Linked DNA regions of Homo sapiens: region 2 is linked to region 1. The links come from fine-mapping of genetic effects on gene expression. Tissue or cell type: whole blood. Region 1 holds a variant in brackets; the other region holds the start of a gene. All regions are shown on one strand. Distances are from middle to middle.

The links. PIP is the estimated chance that this variant, and not a neighbour inherited with it, causes the effect.
Region 2: it holds the start of OAZ1, and the variant in region 1 is fine-mapped to the expression of OAZ1 in whole blood (INTERVAL, PIP above 0.99).

Annotation. Positions count from the first base shown.
Region 1 is chr19:2,288,209-2,296,265 of GRCh38, reverse strand. It overlaps LINGO3 (leucine rich repeat and Ig domain containing 3), which reads left to right. Exons shown (of 2, transcript NM_001101391.3): 2 at 4,444-8,057. The coding sequence starts at 4,490. The coding sequence ends at 6,268. Among named protein-coding and RNA genes, the nearest start is that of PEAK3, 10 kb to the right of the region's middle. RefSeq lists silencers at 5,701-5,770, 6,231-6,340. The variant A/G (reference allele first, on the strand shown) is at 3,823.
Region 2 is chr19:2,264,944-2,273,000 of GRCh38, reverse strand. OAZ1 (ornithine decarboxylase antizyme 1) reads right to left here and starts at 3,515. Exons shown (of 5, transcript NM_004152.3): 1 at 3,257-3,515; 2 at 1,471-1,616; 3 at 1,047-1,219; 4 at 181-266; 5 at 1-29. The coding sequence starts at 3,402. LOC105372240 (a long non-coding RNA gene) reads left to right here and starts at 3,748. Exons shown (of 2, transcript XR_936242.3): 1 at 3,748-3,899; 2 at 4,129-4,508. RefSeq lists silencers at 1-134, 1,674-2,013, 2,024-2,223, 2,434-2,493, 3,459-3,948 and enhancers at 335-394, 405-464, 3,202-3,816, 6,312-6,481.

The DNA of each region.
Region 1 (8,057 bases):
GTAAACACTGTGGAGCGGACAGTAAGGGGGGAGGTGCAGGGTCGGGGGGCAGATAAAAGTGCCATCACCGCCCTAGCACTCTTGTCCCCTCCCGTGACACAGCCCCTGAGTGTGCTGTCGGCAGGGCAGCAGCTCGGGAGAGAATGACCCAGAAAAACAGTGCTGGGAGGGAGCTTGCTGGGAGGGAAGGATTGCCTTCCCTGTAACATGCCCAGGTTGGGATTAAGGATGATTCCGGGGTTGGGGGGGGCATGCCCCCTCTCTCGCTCCCTCCCTTCCTCCCTCCCTCGAGTTTCCTATGTTCCCAAGCTGGGGGCAGGAGGACCAAGGCCTCCTGGGAACCAGGGGCCCCTCGCTTTTCTCTCGGTGGGACCACATTCTCACCTGCGACACCTTCCTTTCCACCACACTCTGTGCTGTTCCACGTGGCATGTGAATGCCCAGTTTTGGCATCTGTACATATGTGTCCTGTCCACCTAAATCCAGAATTCAGTTTGGCGTTTCACCTTATTTATTTATGTATTTATTGAGACGGAGTTTCCCCTCTTGTCGCCCAGGCTGGAGTGCAGTGGCACAATCTCGGCTCACTGCCACCTCCGCCTGCCAGGTTCAAGCGATTCTCCTCCCTCAGCCTCACAAGGAGCTGGGATTACAGGCGCCCATCACCACGCCCGGCTAGTTTTTGTATTTTTTAGTAGAGACAGGGTTTCTCCATGTTGCTTAGGCTGCTCTCGAACTCCTGACCTCAAGTGATCCACCCGCCTCAGCCTCCCGAAGTGCTGGGATGACAGGCGTGAGCCACCGCGCCGGGCAAGAGGAGCTGCTGCTCTCACAGTTCTGGAGTCTGGAAGTCGAAGCTCAAGCAGGTCCAGCTTCCTTTGGGGGCTTTTGGGGAGACCCTTTCTGACTCTTCCAGCTTCCGGTGGTAGCTGGCCATCCCTGGTGTCACTTGACTTGTGGATGAATCACTCCAGTCTCTGCCTGTGTTGTGACTTGGCCGTTGCCTGTGTCTCTGTGTCCAGATTTCCCTCTTATAAGGATGCCAGTCATTGAATTAGGGCTCTCCCTGCTCCTGCGTGACCTCATCTTAATGAATTACAGCTGCAAGATACAAACCCTGTCCTCACTTACGTACAATTCATCTCTGACATGAAGCAGTCTCCCGGGGCTCCGCGTCTGTTCGCTCTGGGATTAAATTCGCGTAGGCACTGGGGAGGCGGGAGCTGCCTTCGCAGATATTTAGCAAATGAGGATCGAAGGCCAGTGGGAACCGTGAGGAGACGCACAACCTGGTTTGGGCCACGGGGCCTGGGGGGATGCCGAGGGGGGCTCAGCTGCCAAGATGCCAAAAATAGCCGGCCGGCTGGCGGGGGAGGCGGCCAAGCAGAAGAAGCTGGGCAATGCCGCCTGGTAGTTCTGGCTGCTTCCTCCCGCTCCCTCCAACCCCACCTCCACCCGCCACCCCAGCCCCCAGAATCTTGGCTGCAGCCAAGAAGAGCTGGTAAGGGTGCAGCAGGCTCCCAGGAGAGACGGAAACAGCCCAGGAGGCACAGCTACCAGGACCCACGGAGCATTGGCGCCTGTTCCTCTGGGCCACCACGGCTCCATGTCATCTGCCCCCCACCCAGAGGCCCCTCCTAACCCAGCTCCCCGCCCCCCTCCACTCTCTCCTTTAGCTTCACCAGACTCCCGCCACACCTCGGGGCCTCTGCCGTGGCTGTTCCCCCAGCCCACACACCCTTCCTCCAGAAAACCATGGGCTCTGTTCAACTTTTGGGTCGGCCTGTTTCCTGCCAGAACACGGCGCCACAAACCCCGGGGGGTTTAAAACAACCGAAATATATGCCTTCCCAGCTCCGGAGGCGGAAGTCCAAAATCAAGGTGTCCGCAGGGCCGGGGGCCCTCTGGAAGCTCCCGGGGCGCGTCCTTCCTGCCTCTCCCGGCTTCCTGGGGCTCTCAGCAATCCCCGGCTTGTGGCTGTGTCACCCTAGCCTCTGCCTCCGTGTTCACACGGCTCTATTTCCCCTGTATAGGGCTAGGTGTGTGTCCAAGTCTCCCTCTTGTTGTAAGGACAGGAGTCGTTGGAAAAGGCTCACTGTAATCCACTGCAGTCTCATCTAGCCCTGAGCACATCTGTAAAGACCCTGATTCCAAATGAGGTCCCGTGCACAGCAGGCACGGAGGGCAGGACGTGAACATACCTTTTTTTTTCCCTTGAGACAGTCTCACTCTGTTGCCCAGTGGCTAGAGCGCAGTGGCACGATCACAGCTCACTGAAGCCTCAACTCCTGGGATCAAGCGATCCTCCCACCCCAGATTCCCCTAGTTAGGACTATAGATGCGCGCCACCACGCCAGGCTAACTTTTGTATTTTTAGTTGAGACGGGGGTTCCCCATGTTGCCCAGGCTGGTCTCGAACTCCTGACCTCAGGTGATCCACCCACCTCGGCCTCCCAAAATGCTGGATTTACAGGCGTGAGCCACCGCGCCCGGCCTTGAACATTTGCGGGAACACAGTTCCACCTACAACAGGGTCTGAGATCAAATGTCATCTCCCTGTCTGTGGATGGGCCTGTCCTGGACATTTCATAGAAATGAGATCACACGGACGGGCGCGGTGGCTCACACCTGTAATCCCAGCACTTTGGGAGGCCAAGGCCGGTGGATTACCCGAGGTCAGGAGTTCAAGACCAGCCTGGCCAACATGGCAAAACCCCATCTGTACTAAAACTACAAAAATTAGCTGGGCATGGTGGCGGGTGCCTGTAGTCCCAGCTACTCAGGAGGCTGAGGCAGGAGAATCACTTAAACCCTGGGGAGGGGGAGCTTGCAGTGAGCTGAGATCGCACCACTGCATTCCAGCCTGGGCCAGAGTGAGACTCTGTCTCCAAAAAAAAAAAAAGGCCAGGCGCGGTGGCTCACTCCTGTAATCCCAGCACTTTGGGAGGCCAAGGAGGGTGGATCACGAGGTCAGGAGATCGAGACCATCCTGGCTAACACGGTGAAATCCCGTCTCTACTAAAAACACAAAAAATTAGCCAGGCGTGGTGGCTGGCACCTGTAGCCCCAGTTACTCGGGAGGCTGAGGCAGGAGAATGGCGTGAACCCGGGAGGCAGAGCTTGCAGTGAGGTGAGATTGTGCCACCGCACTCCAGCCTGGGTGACAGAGCAAGACTCCGTCTCAAAAAGAAAGAAAGAAAGAAACGGGGTCATACAGTGTGGCCTTTTGTGTCGCGTCTCTCACTGAGCATGGCGTCCTCAAGGTGCATCCCCACCGTGGCCTGGGTCAGAGCCTCACTCCTTTTCATGGCTGAGTCGTGTTCGTGTGTGGGTGGCTGCACGGTGCTGACCCATCCATTCCTTGGGGCACATTCCAGCCTTTTCCACTGTTTGGCTGTTACAGATGCGGCTGTGAATGTTCCCAGGTTTTCCGTGCGCTGTGTGTTCCATTCTCTTATGCAAAGACACCCAGGAGCGGGTGGGCGCGGTGGCTCACACCTGTAATCCCAGCACTTTGGGAGGCGGAGGCAGGTGGATCACCTGAGGTCAGGAGTTTGAGACCAACCTGGCCAATATGGTAAAACCCCGTCTCTACTAAAAATACAAAAATTAGCCGGACGTGGTGGCGGGCACCTGTAATCCCAGCTACTCAGGAGGCTGAGGCAGGAGAATTGCTTGAACCCGGGAGGTGGAGGTTTCAGTGAGCCGAGATCAAGCCACTGCACTCCAGCCTGGATGACAGAGTGAGCCTCCATCTCAAACAGACAAACAAACACAAACAAAACAAAACAAAAAAACCCAGGAGATTGGAATTGCAGCCAC[A/G]CGGTGGATCAATGCTGCTTTTTTTTTTTTTTTTTTTTTTTTTTGAGACAGGGTTTTTTGCTCTATCTCCCAGGCTGGAGTGCAGTGGCACGATCACAGCTCACTGTGGCCTCAACCCCCTGGGCTCAAGCAATCCTCCTGGCTCAGCCTCCTGAGTAGCTGGGACCACAGGTGCAGGCCACCATGCCTGGGTAAACTTTTCAATATTTCACAATTACTTGAAAACCAGCTAATTTTTAATTTTTTTTTTTTTAAGAGACAGGGGTCTCACCGTGTTGCCCAGGCTGGAGTGCAGTGGCACAAGCATATCTCACTGCAGCCTCCACCTCCTGGGCCCAAGCCATCCTCCTGCCTCAGCCTCCTGAGTAGCTGGGACCACAGGCCTACACCACCACATGCGGCTCATCTTTTATTTTTTTGTAGAGATGGGAGTCTTGCTATGTTGTGCAGGCTGGTCTCGAACTCTTGAACTCAAGCAATTCTTCCATCTCAGCCTCCCAAAATGCTGGGTTTACAGGAGCGAGCCGCCGTGCTGGGACGGGTTAGGGGCGGGCTGGCGGCAGAGGCGCCGCGGAGGGGTGCTAACGGTGCTAACGCTGCCCGCTCCCCGCCCGCCCGCAGGTGCGCAGGAGGATGGTGGCGCGGCCCTAGGCCCACGCTCCGCACCATGACCTGCTGGCTGTGCGTCCTGAGCCTGCCCCTGCTCCTGCTGCCCGCGGCGCCGCCCCCGGCTGGAGGCTGCCCGGCCCGCTGCGAGTGCACCGTGCAGACCCGCGCGGTGGCCTGCACGCGCCGCCGCCTGACCGCCGTGCCCGACGGCATCCCGGCCGAGACCCGCCTGCTGGAGCTCAGCCGCAACCGCATCCGCTGCCTGAACCCGGGCGACCTGGCCGCGCTGCCCGCGCTGGAGGAGCTGGACCTGAGCGAGAACGCCATCGCGCACGTGGAGCCCGGCGCCTTCGCCAACCTGCCGCGCCTGCGCGTCCTGCGTCTCCGTGGCAACCAGCTGAAGCTCATCCCGCCCGGGGTCTTCACGCGCCTGGACAACCTCACGCTGCTGGACCTGAGCGAGAACAAGCTGGTAATCCTGCTGGACTACACTTTCCAGGACCTGCACAGCCTGCGCCGGCTGGAAGTGGGCGACAACGACCTGGTATTCGTCTCGCGCCGCGCCTTCGCGGGGCTGCTGGCCCTGGAGGAGCTGACCCTGGAGCGCTGCAACCTCACGGCTCTGTCCGGGGAGTCGCTGGGCCATCTGCGCAGCCTGGGCGCCCTGCGGCTGCGCCACCTGGCCATCGCCTCCCTGGAGGACCAGAACTTCCGCAGGCTGCCCGGGCTGCTGCACCTGGAGATTGACAACTGGCCGCTGCTGGAGGAGGTGGCGGCGGGCAGCCTGCGGGGCCTGAACCTGACCTCGCTGTCGGTCACCCACACCAACATCACCGCCGTGCCGGCCGCCGCGCTGCGGCACCAGGCGCACCTCACCTGCCTCAATCTGTCGCACAACCCCATCAGCACGGTGCCGCGGGGGTCGTTCCGGGACCTGGTCCGCCTGCGCGAGCTGCACCTGGCCGGGGCCCTGCTGGCTGTGGTGGAGCCGCAGGCCTTCCTGGGCCTGCGCCAGATCCGCCTGCTCAACCTCTCCAACAACCTGCTCTCCACGTTGGAGGAGAGCACCTTCCACTCGGTGAACACGCTAGAGACGCTGCGCGTGGACGGGAACCCGCTGGCCTGCGACTGTCGCCTGCTGTGGATCGTGCAGCGTCGCAAGACCCTCAACTTCGACGGGCGGCTGCCGGCCTGCGCCACCCCGGCCGAGGTGCGCGGCGACGCGCTGCGAAACCTGCCGGACTCCGTGCTGTTCGAGTACTTCGTGTGCCGCAAACCCAAGATCCGGGAGCGGCGGCTGCAGCGCGTCACGGCCACCGCGGGCGAAGACGTCCGCTTCCTCTGCCGCGCCGAGGGCGAGCCGGCGCCCACCGTGGCCTGGGTGACCCCCCAGCACCGGCCGGTGACGGCCACCAGCGCGGGCCGGGCGCGCGTGCTCCCCGGGGGGACGCTGGAGATCCAGGACGCGCGGCCGCAGGACAGCGGCACCTACACGTGCGTGGCCAGCAACGCGGGCGGCAACGACACCTACTTCGCCACGCTGACCGTGCGCCCCGAGCCGGCCGCCAACCGGACCCCGGGCGAGGCCCACAACGAGACGCTGGCGGCCCTGCGCGCGCCGCTCGACCTCACCACCATCCTGGTGTCCACCGCCATGGGCTGCATCACCTTCCTGGGCGTGGTCCTCTTCTGCTTCGTGCTGCTGTTCGTGTGGAGCCGCGGCCGCGGGCAGCACAAAAACAACTTCTCGGTGGAGTACTCCTTCCGCAAGGTGGATGGGCCGGCCGCCGCGGCGGGCCAGGGAGGCGCGCGCAAGTTCAACATGAAGATGATCTGAGGGGTCCCCAGGGCGGACCCTCCCCTCCCCTCCCCCGCGGGCCGGCCGCTCGCGTGTCCACCTATGCATTTCCCGGAGGGGAAGGGGACGGCTGCACGGCGCTCCCCAGGCAGAACTTCCCCTTTTTTTGTAGACGCCCAACCGCAGGACTGTTTTTCATCAGCATGCGTCTTTTTTGCAGTTTCTCAAGCGTTTTCTAAAGATTTCAACCCGTCTTCCTGTCCCTGCTATGGTGGCTGAGCTGGGGGGTGGGGGTGCGGGCTGCAAGGATGGGGGGATGGGCTCCCGTCTACCAACCCGGGGTGGCTGGGGGCGCTCAGAGACCCCAGGATCCTCAGGGCCCGCAATTCACACCCAGGAGGCACAAGACTGCTGCCCCCAAGCCCTGGGCTTCCGCTCCCCCAGCCCTTTGTACACAGATCGCATCGGGGAGACGGTGGACACCCGGGTCCCACAAAGGGCCCCACAGCCCCAAGGGGAGGGTGCGCAGAAAGTCTGCATTGCTCACACCTGGCCGTCCTACACCTCACACCCAGAGACACACTCACACCTGGAACCCAATCACACAGGTGCAACACACCTCACACCCAGCCGACACTAAAACCAGACCCGGGGCACCAGAGCTGACCGCAGGGGGCAGGCAGGGCTCTCGTGAGAGCAAAGCTCACACCCGGGACAGGCGCAACTCACACCCGGGACACACAGCTCACACCCAGGACACACACAGCTCACACCCAGAACACACAGCTCACACCCGGGACACACAGCTTACACCCGGGAAACACAGCTCACACCCGGGACACACAGCTCACACCCGGAACACAGAGCTCACACCCGGGACACACAGCTCATACGCAGGACACACTCAGCTCACACCTGATACAAGGACAGCTCACAGTGGAACACACAGCTCACACCCGGGATACAGCTCACACCCAGGACACACTCAGCTCACACTGGAACACACAGCTCACACCCAGAACACAGAACTCACATCTGGGACACACACAGCTCACACCCGAGACACACACCCTCACACCCAGCTGACACTAAAACCAAGCCCTGGGCACCAGAGCTGACCACAGAGGCAGGCAGGGCTCTCGTGAGAGCACAGCTCACACCAGGGACATGCTCAGTTCACACCTGGGACAGGCACAACGCATAACTGAGACACAGCTCACACCTGGGACACAGAGCCCACCCCAGCGCCTGCTCAGCTGAGCATCTCCCAGCCGACCTCGGGGCCTGGGCTCAGGTCTTGCTGAGGACCCAGCACACACGGTGGTCACAGTCAGGGGTCCACACGCCCTGTCCTCCGTCCTCCCCACAGCCCAGCAGGGCTGTCCACAAGAAGGAGCCATCACCCCAGCCCTCCGCCTCCCTCCGCTGCCACGTGCTTCCCAGAACAGCAGGCAAGAGAGGGCCACCCCACAAGGGAGAGGTGGCCACCCTGCCCCGGCCCAGAACCATGGCTTCTGGGGTGCTGAGTGTCCTTCCAAATGGGTCTACTGGAGGGACTTTTGCCCCTAGGTACACATGACCTCTGAGCCGGCCTCAGACAAGCCCTGAGCGTGGCCCCATCATGGCCGGCCCTGCTGACCCGTGGCTCAGGTGGGGAACGAGACCAAAGAGCACAGGGGGTTCCCGGGGATCCCGGCTACGTGCGGTGCAGTGTAGTGACAAGAACAAGGCCGGAACAAGGGCTTCACCCTGCAGGGAGGCCTGGACCCGGGTCCTCGGGAGAAGGTGATGGAGGAAGCTGGGTCTCTGCACCTGCAGAGGTGGGGCA
Region 2 (8,057 bases), 23 kb after region 1:
CAAAAAGCTGAAGGTTCGGAGCAAGGCGGCTGCGGGGGAGAAGCCGTCAGAACCCCTGCCGACCAGAACCCCCCGCCCGCACCCCCCACCCCCGCAGGGAGACCGTGCCTGCGGGCTGAGAATGAAGGGGCGGCGCAGGCACCCCCACGCACCCTACTGCAGGCGATACGGGTCACCTACCTCTGTCCTCGCGGTTCTTGTGGAAGCAAATGAAGACATGGTCGGCTCGCAGCTGCTCCTCAGCGAACTCCAGGAGAACTGCAAAGCTGCAGCGAGTGTCAGCGTCTCGGCTGGCCCGACCCACCTGCCTACCTCCTGGGCCTTAGCAGCTACCCTGAGGCCCGCTCTACTCCAGGGTCCCCCTGGGGCCCAGATCGTCCTCTGGGTGGGGCCGTCCTGACACCACAGTGTTGAGCAGCACCGCTGCACCCACCCACGTGCATGCCCCATGACAGAAAAGCTCTGACACTGCCTGGCATCCCTTGGAGGGTAGAATCCCAGGGTACGAATTTGGAGTGCACTTTTTAAAAAGGGACCCCAGGCCGGGAGCGGTAGCTCACGCCTGTAATCCCAGCACTTTGGGAGGCCGAGGTGGGCGGATCACGAGGTCAGGAGTTCAAGACCAGCCTGGCCAACATAGCGAAACCTCGTCTCTACTAAAAACACAAAAATTAGCTGGGCATCGGTGGCGGGCGCCTGTAAGCCCAGCTACTCGGGAGGCTGAGGCAGGAGAATCGCTTGAACCCGGAAGGCAGAGGTTGCAGTGAGCCAAGATCATGCCACTGCACTCCAGCCTGGGCAACAAAAGCAAGACTCCATCTCAAAAAAAAAAAAAAGGGGGGACCCTGTCCCCACCAACAAAGCGATGGTGGCCCCCATATGTGCTGCCTGAAGGCAGTGCCCTCCCTCATCTGTCCCTGCACCCCTTGGGCAGCAACCCGCACCTGGTCCCTGCTCCCCTGGGTGAGCACTCCCCGCCTGTCCTTGCCCCTCACCTGGTCCCTGCTCCCCTGGGTGAGCACTCCCTGCCTGTCCTTGCCCCTCACCTGTCCTTGCTCCCCTCGGGCAGCGCGCCGCCCGGGATCTCGATGTAGAGGCTGCCGCCACTCAGCACTGTTCGCCAGTTAATGCGTTTGGCGTCTGTGAGCCTGGACTGGACGTTGAGAATCCTCGTCTTGTCGTTGGACGTTAGTTCCTCTGTTACATTCAGCCGATCATCCTGTCCAGGGGGTGCAGCCCAATTCAGAACCCTGACTCACCCCACAGGACTCCAAGAACCCGGCAGCGCTAAAGCTTGGGCCTAGGCCGTGTTGAGCTCAGGCAACGCCTGGGCTGCAGGAGACTGTGCGCCGGCTCTGATGAAACTCAGGGTTCCCACGATTACATTCAATCACAGGTACGGGCAGCAAGGTGCACAAGAAAGTACCTGTGGCCCCAGAGCAGCCCCAGCAGGCCCGGCCCCATACTCACGGAGTAGAATAAGTTAGCTGAAAGATTGTGATCCCTCTGACTATTCCCTCGCCCACCTGGGATCTTCAGGGGTGGGTGAGGGGCATCAGGAGCACCACCGAGGCCCCGGACCCGGGTTACTACAGCAGTGGAGGGAGACCCTGGAACTGAAGATGATGCAGGTCACGAGGCAGCGCCAGGCTCCGGGCGGAGACCCCTCCAGGGCGTCCGGGCGGCCTTCAGCACATCCCCACCCCTGCCTCGGCCAAAAGACCCCGCCCCGCCCAGGCAGGGGCCCACCCGGTCCCACACCCCCGAGGCTTCCCGAAGGCAGCTCCAACGCCTGCCCCAAGCACCTACAAGGGCAGCAGTCACTGAGCCCCGACTCCTCGGGCGGCGCCGCCCAGGACAGCCCAACCTTCCCAGGGCGGGGGGCCCCTTCCCCTCACGCAGCCCCGCCGGGGCAGAGCCTCACCCCCCGGCCACCAAGACAGCCAGCGCTTCCCCTTTTCAGTTCTGTCGCGGCTTCCCCTTTCCACCCTGCACTACGGCCAAAATCTGGGACTCTTGCTTGTCCCCGCGAAGACCGGGCGGGCCTAGCCTGACCTCATGGAGGACGCGCCCCGCTCCGGCTCCCGGCCGCCCGCCCCCCCGCCCCCGCTCCAGGCCCGGGCCCTCCCGGTTGCGTCATCCAGGCAGACGCGGCCTCGCGCCCCGGGGGAGATTTTCACAATCGCGCAGCCGGCAGCGCCAGCAGCCATTTGCTGCGCAGGGTAAACAGGCCCCAAAGTTGCCTCCATTTTGCACGGCCCCCAAACCGCGGCACCGCCAGCACCGCGGCCCAACCTCCCGATCCGGGGCTGAGCGACGCCCACCTCGGGGGACGCAGTCGGGAAAGCTCGACCGAGACCCCGCGGGCTCCCCCACAACCGCAGCTGGCACCCGCGCCCCCGGAAGCGGGACGCGTCTTCCCGGGAAGCGGCGGGGGTCTTCCCAGGGCGCTGCCGGGCTGTCGGAGTGCGCCACCCCCAGCTCCCCGGCGGCCCCCGCGGAGAAGCCCTGGGTGCCGTCTACGTGCGCGGCCTCGCCCGGCGCGTCCCGGGCCATCCAGACCGACTCGCTCAGGGGCGAAAAACGGGGCCCACGAGGTCCGTCGCGTGCAGGGGCCACATCGAGGCAACAGGGACCCGCGGGAGCTCGTCCACCGCAAAGCGCTCCCCGCTCCCGCAGCGCACGCTCGACGGCCGGGACCGAAAAGTGCAGATTCACCAGCCCCGCGGGCCCTGCCTGTCCGCGGACCAGCCCCCCAAGGCCGACCCCGCCCCCAACCAGATTGCCCCATCCTGCGCCTCCCAAATCCGACCCGACCGCACACCCTTCCTCCAAACCGAATTCCCAGTCTGCGCCCCGCAAATCCAACCCTCGACCAGAAGCCTCTCCCCTCCTCCGAAGCCGAGTCCCATCCCGCGAACCCCGCAAAAGACACACGCCTCCCCCGACTCCCCGTCCTGCGCCCAAATCCGACCTCCGACCCATGCCCCTCCCGCAAATCAGGCGCCCCGGACGGTGCCCCCCAAATCCAACTCCGCACCCTTGCCCCCCAAACCCGACTCCCCCGAGAGCACTGCTAAGGCCGGGGGGGACCTCCAGGCCCGCCCTGCGCCTACCTCGTCCCCGGCGCGATTCTGGCCTTGACAAAGGGGCGGATCTCGCGCGCCGGGGACCTATCTGGCGCCCCGAGGACGGCCCCCCGCAGGCCTGCGCGGCCGGCGCTTCTGGAAGCTTCGGACGGGGGCGGGGCACTTACCTCTCACTGCTGCTGCCGCCGCGGCTGTGCAGGCTTAGGAGCGGCATGGTGCGGCTGGCGTGGATGGTGGCGCTGGGTTTATCCCCTTCCTTCTCTCTGGCGAAGCAGTGGCTATTGAGGATCCGCTGCAGGGAGGATTTCACCATCCGGCCGCTGGGGTCCGAAACCAGGAAAACCTCCGCTGCGTCTCTCCGCGCCGCCGCCGCTGCTCGCCGTTCGCAAAATGGCGCCTCTGCCGCCGCCCGCCTTTATAGATGCTGCGCCCAGGCCACGCCCCCCGCGCCGCCGGGAACGCGACCGCACGAGGGGCAGAGCCGCGGGGCCGCCGGGAAAAAAAGTCGCGCCCGCCCCTCCCAGCGCCTGATTGGTGAAAGGGAAAGGGAAAGGAAGAGGCTCTCTGGAGATTGGTTGGTGAGCCTCGGGCCACGCCCCCTCCTGCGCGCGTCCTTCTGGGGGCGGGGCTGCCGTGGCGCCGGGTACGCGCTGCGCGCGCCCCGAGCCGTCCCCGCCCCCACAATCGTGCCTTGGGGGCGGGGGCGGCTCGCTGGGGCCGATTTTCGGGGGTCTTCGAGTGCCCGTTTGTCTGTCGTGGTCCACGTCGCCCTCCCTAGGGTCCCTTCACGCAGCGGGACCCCTCCCCTGGGTAGGCCCCCGGGTGCTTGGGGGGTTGTCCAACCGCGCCAGAATTATTTCCAGTAACACCTGGTAATCATCGATGATATTACTGGTTTTATTTTTTTAAATTTGGTCTTGCAGTTCTTAAAATGCTTCCAGTGTTTAAAAAAAAAGAACTTCCAATGTTAAAGATATTCAAATTTAGTAAAATATTTCGTGTACAATTTGGACTTAAGCAAAAATTTTACTCCTTGCAGATAAATTCAGATTTTTCCTGTGGAAACTGAAACTTACCCTAAGGAAAAACACTACTCCTGGCAGTTAAAATTCAGAAACACATCTCATGTATGAACTAAAATGTGGATCTCCCAAGGAAAAAACGATTTCTTTGGTGGTCAAGTTCGGTAAACTGTTTCGCCTGTGAGGTAAAATGTGGACTTACCTAGCAAAAATATTTCCCCTCCTGGTTAAATCCAGAAAAAAAATCTCAGGTATGAACTGCACTTTGCTTTTAATAAGCAAAGATATAACTCTTGGCAGTCACATACGGGTACATAGCTTGTGTGTAGACTAAATTATGAATTTAGCAAAAAGTTGCCACTTTGCAGTGAGGTTTAATAAAATATTTTTTATTTCATGTATAAACAAAATTTTGTTCTTACCAAGCAAAAATGCTACTCCTGGCAAATCCTGATTCCTTTCATGGTTTTAATTTTGTTTTGTTTGCGACCGGGCCTGGCTGTCACCCAGGCTGGAGTGCAGTGGCGCAATCTCGGCTCGCTGCAACCTCCGCCTCCCAGGTTCAAGCGATTCTCCTGCTTCAGCCTCCTGAGGAGCTGGGATTACAGGTGCCCGCCACCACGCCCGGCTAATTTTTGTATTTTTAGTAGAGATGGGGTTTCACCATGTTGGCAAGGCTGGTCTGGAACTCCTGACCTCAGGTGATCCGCCTGCCTCGACCTCCCAAAGTTTGGGGATTAACAGGCGTGAGCCACCGCGCCTGCCTGTCTTTCGAGATTTCGTACTGCACCAGAAGGCTGTTGTTGCATCTCTGCTACGAGCATTCGCTATTCAGGTGTTGAGGCAGAAATTAACTCCTGCGGTTGACATTTGGGGCCGCCCTGGGCACTGCAGGGCGCTGAGCAGCGTCCCTGGCCTCCACCCACTCCATGCCTTGAGCACCCCCAGTTGTGACAACCACAAGTATCCGCAGACATCACCCAGTGTCCCTTGGCGGGGGCAGAATCACCCTGGGTGAGACTCCCGAGTTAGGGGATTCCACGGACCCCCCCAAGAGACTCTGCATCCCATGATCCTCTGCCCTGCTGAGGTCCCAGGAGACTGCGCACGTTGAAATCCACACCTTGAGGCAGAGGTTGCAGTGAGCTGAGATGGCGCCGCTGCACTCCAGCCTGGTGACAGAGCGAGACTCTGTCACAAAAAAAACAAAAAAAAAGCAATCCACACCCTGAGTGGGGAAGGAGAGAGGAGAAGCATCCCAGGAGCTGGGGGCCTCCTGGTTTATACCGTTTGCCCCATTAGGAGTTTATCCTGAGGCTGGGCACGGTGGCTCACGCCTGTAATCCCAGCACTTTGGGAGGCCGAGGCGGGTGGATCACGAGGTCAGGAGTGCAAGACCAGTCTGGCCAACATGGTGAAACCCCGTCTCTACTAAAAATACAAAAATTAGCTGGGCATGGTGGCGCGTGCCTGTAATCCCAGCTACTCAGGGGGCTGAGGCAGGAGAATTGCTTGAACTGGCACCCGGGAGGTGGAGGTTGCAGTGAGCCAAGATTGCACCACTACACTCCAGCCTGGGCTACAGAGCGAGACTCCATCTCAAAAAAAAGGAGTTTATTCTGGTGTCTGGTGTGAGCAGAGAACAGACTCTGTTTCAAATAATTAACTCAGGGTCTCCTCCCTCGGACCCGTGGACATTGGGCTTGGATTGTTCTCTGGGGTGGGGCATCCTGGGCAAATGGTATGAACCAGGAGGGCCCCAGCTCCTGGGATGCTTCTCCTCTCTCCTTCCCCACTCAGGGTGTGGATTGCTTTTTTTTTTGTTTTTTTGTTTTTTGAGACGGAGTCTCGCTCTGTTGCCAGGCTGGACTGCAGCGTCCTGGGCACTGCAGGGTACTGAGCAGCGTCCCTGGCCTCCACCCACTCCATGCCAGGAGCACTCCAAGTCATGACAACCAGAAATGTCCCAAACATCATCCAATGTCCCTTGGGGGCAGAATGACGCCCCTAAGTTGAGGACCTCCTCTGGGAACAGAGGCAAGAGCCTGCTCGAAATGAACAGGTCACCGGTGCGATTTCCAGAACAGCCACGACCAGGGAGCCCCATCCCTCCATCCTGACTGCAGCAGCTCTCACTTCCTCCTCCTGCCTGCCTCTGATGGCCGCCTGCCAATGCTGTGAGGCTTCTAGAAGGGCCACCCCCACACTGGCCAGGCCACGTGGGATGAGCGCTAGGATCAGCAACTGCGCCCTGCTGGCCCACCTGGCCGGGTTCCCCAGAAACTCCCCAGGGTGGGAGGTGCTTTGCTGGGAGCTGGGGAGTCTGTGACTGGTGAGGGGCCTCCCGGACAGCAGGGAGAGAAAGAGGCATATCTTTCTCTGGAGGTGGTGAGGCTTGAACTGTCTGAAAGGGACAGCAGAGGATGTGGGGTGGTCAAGGATAGAGGGCCCATGCCTGGGTTTTCTTCTGAAATCAAGGTTGAGGGGATACGGCTGCTGGCAGAGGACGCAGAGAGTATGACTCTGATTGATTGATTGATGGACTGATTTTTTTTTTTTTTTTTTGAGACAGAGTCTCACCTGTAGCCCAGGCTGGAGTGCAGTGGCGTAACCTTGGCTCACTGCAACCTCCACCTACAGGGTTCAAGCGATTCTCCTGCCTCAGCCTCCCGAGAAGCTGGGACTACAGGCGTGCACCACCATTCCCGGCTAATTTTTGTGTTTAGTGGAGACAGGGTTTCACCATATTGGCCAGGACGGTCTCAAACTCCTGACTTCATGATCTACGTGCCTCCCAAAGTGCTGGGATTACAGGTGTGCCACCGCACCTGGCTGTTTGGTTTTTGAGACAGAGTCTCACTTTGTCACCAGGCTGGAGTTCAGGGTCATGATCTCGGCGGCTCACTGCAACCTCCCCTTCCCAGGTTCAAGTGATTCTCCTGCCTCGGCCTCCCAAGTAGTTGGGAATTACAGGCTCACGCCACCAGGCCCAGTTAATTTTGGTATTTTTAGTAGAGACGGGATTTCACCATATTGGTCAGGCTGGTCTCGAACTCCTGAACTCAGGTGATCCACCCATCTCACCCTTCCAAAGTGCTGGGATTACAGGCGTGAGCCACCGCACCCGGCTGACTCTGATTTAAAAGAGGGTATGTGGGCCCGGTGTGCACTTTGGGAGGCAGAGGCAAGAGGATCGCTTGAGCTCAGGAGTTCAAGACCAGCCAGGGCTACATAGCCAGACCCCATCTCTGCAGCAAATTTAAAAATTAGGGACATGGTGGTGCACACCTGTAGTTCCAGCTACTCCAGCGGCTGAGGCAGGAGGATCCCCTGAGCCAGGAAGGTCAAGGCTGCAGTGAACTATGGTCTCTCAACTGCACTGCAGCCTGGGTGACAGAGGGAGACCTTGTCTCTAAAAGAATTATAATAATGAGTTAAATAAAATAAAATGTAAACAGGTAAAAATAAAGAAGGATTGGGGCCGCGCACAGTGGCTCACGCCTGTAATCCCAGCACTTTGGGAGGCTGAAGCAAGAAGATCGCTTGAGCCCAGGAGTTGCAGACCAGCCTGGCCAACATAGCAAGACCCTATCTCTAGGTTCTCACTTTGTTGAGAATTTTAAAAACTTCTAGAAATTTTAAAAAATTAAAAAAATTTTAATTAGCTGGGATTGGGTGGGCATCTGTGATCCCAGCTACTTGGGAGGCTGAACCAAGAGGATCACTTGAGCCCAGGAGGTCAAGGCTGCAGTGAGCTGTGATCACACCACTGCACTCCAGCCTGGGGGACAGAGCAAGACACTGTCTCAAAAAAAAATGAAAGCAAGCAGGAAAATGGCCAAGCGTGGTGGCTCACGCCTGTAATCCCAGCACTTTGAGAGGCCAAGGCAGGCGGATCACGAGGTCAGGAGATCGAGACCATCCTGGCTAACACGGTGAAACCCCG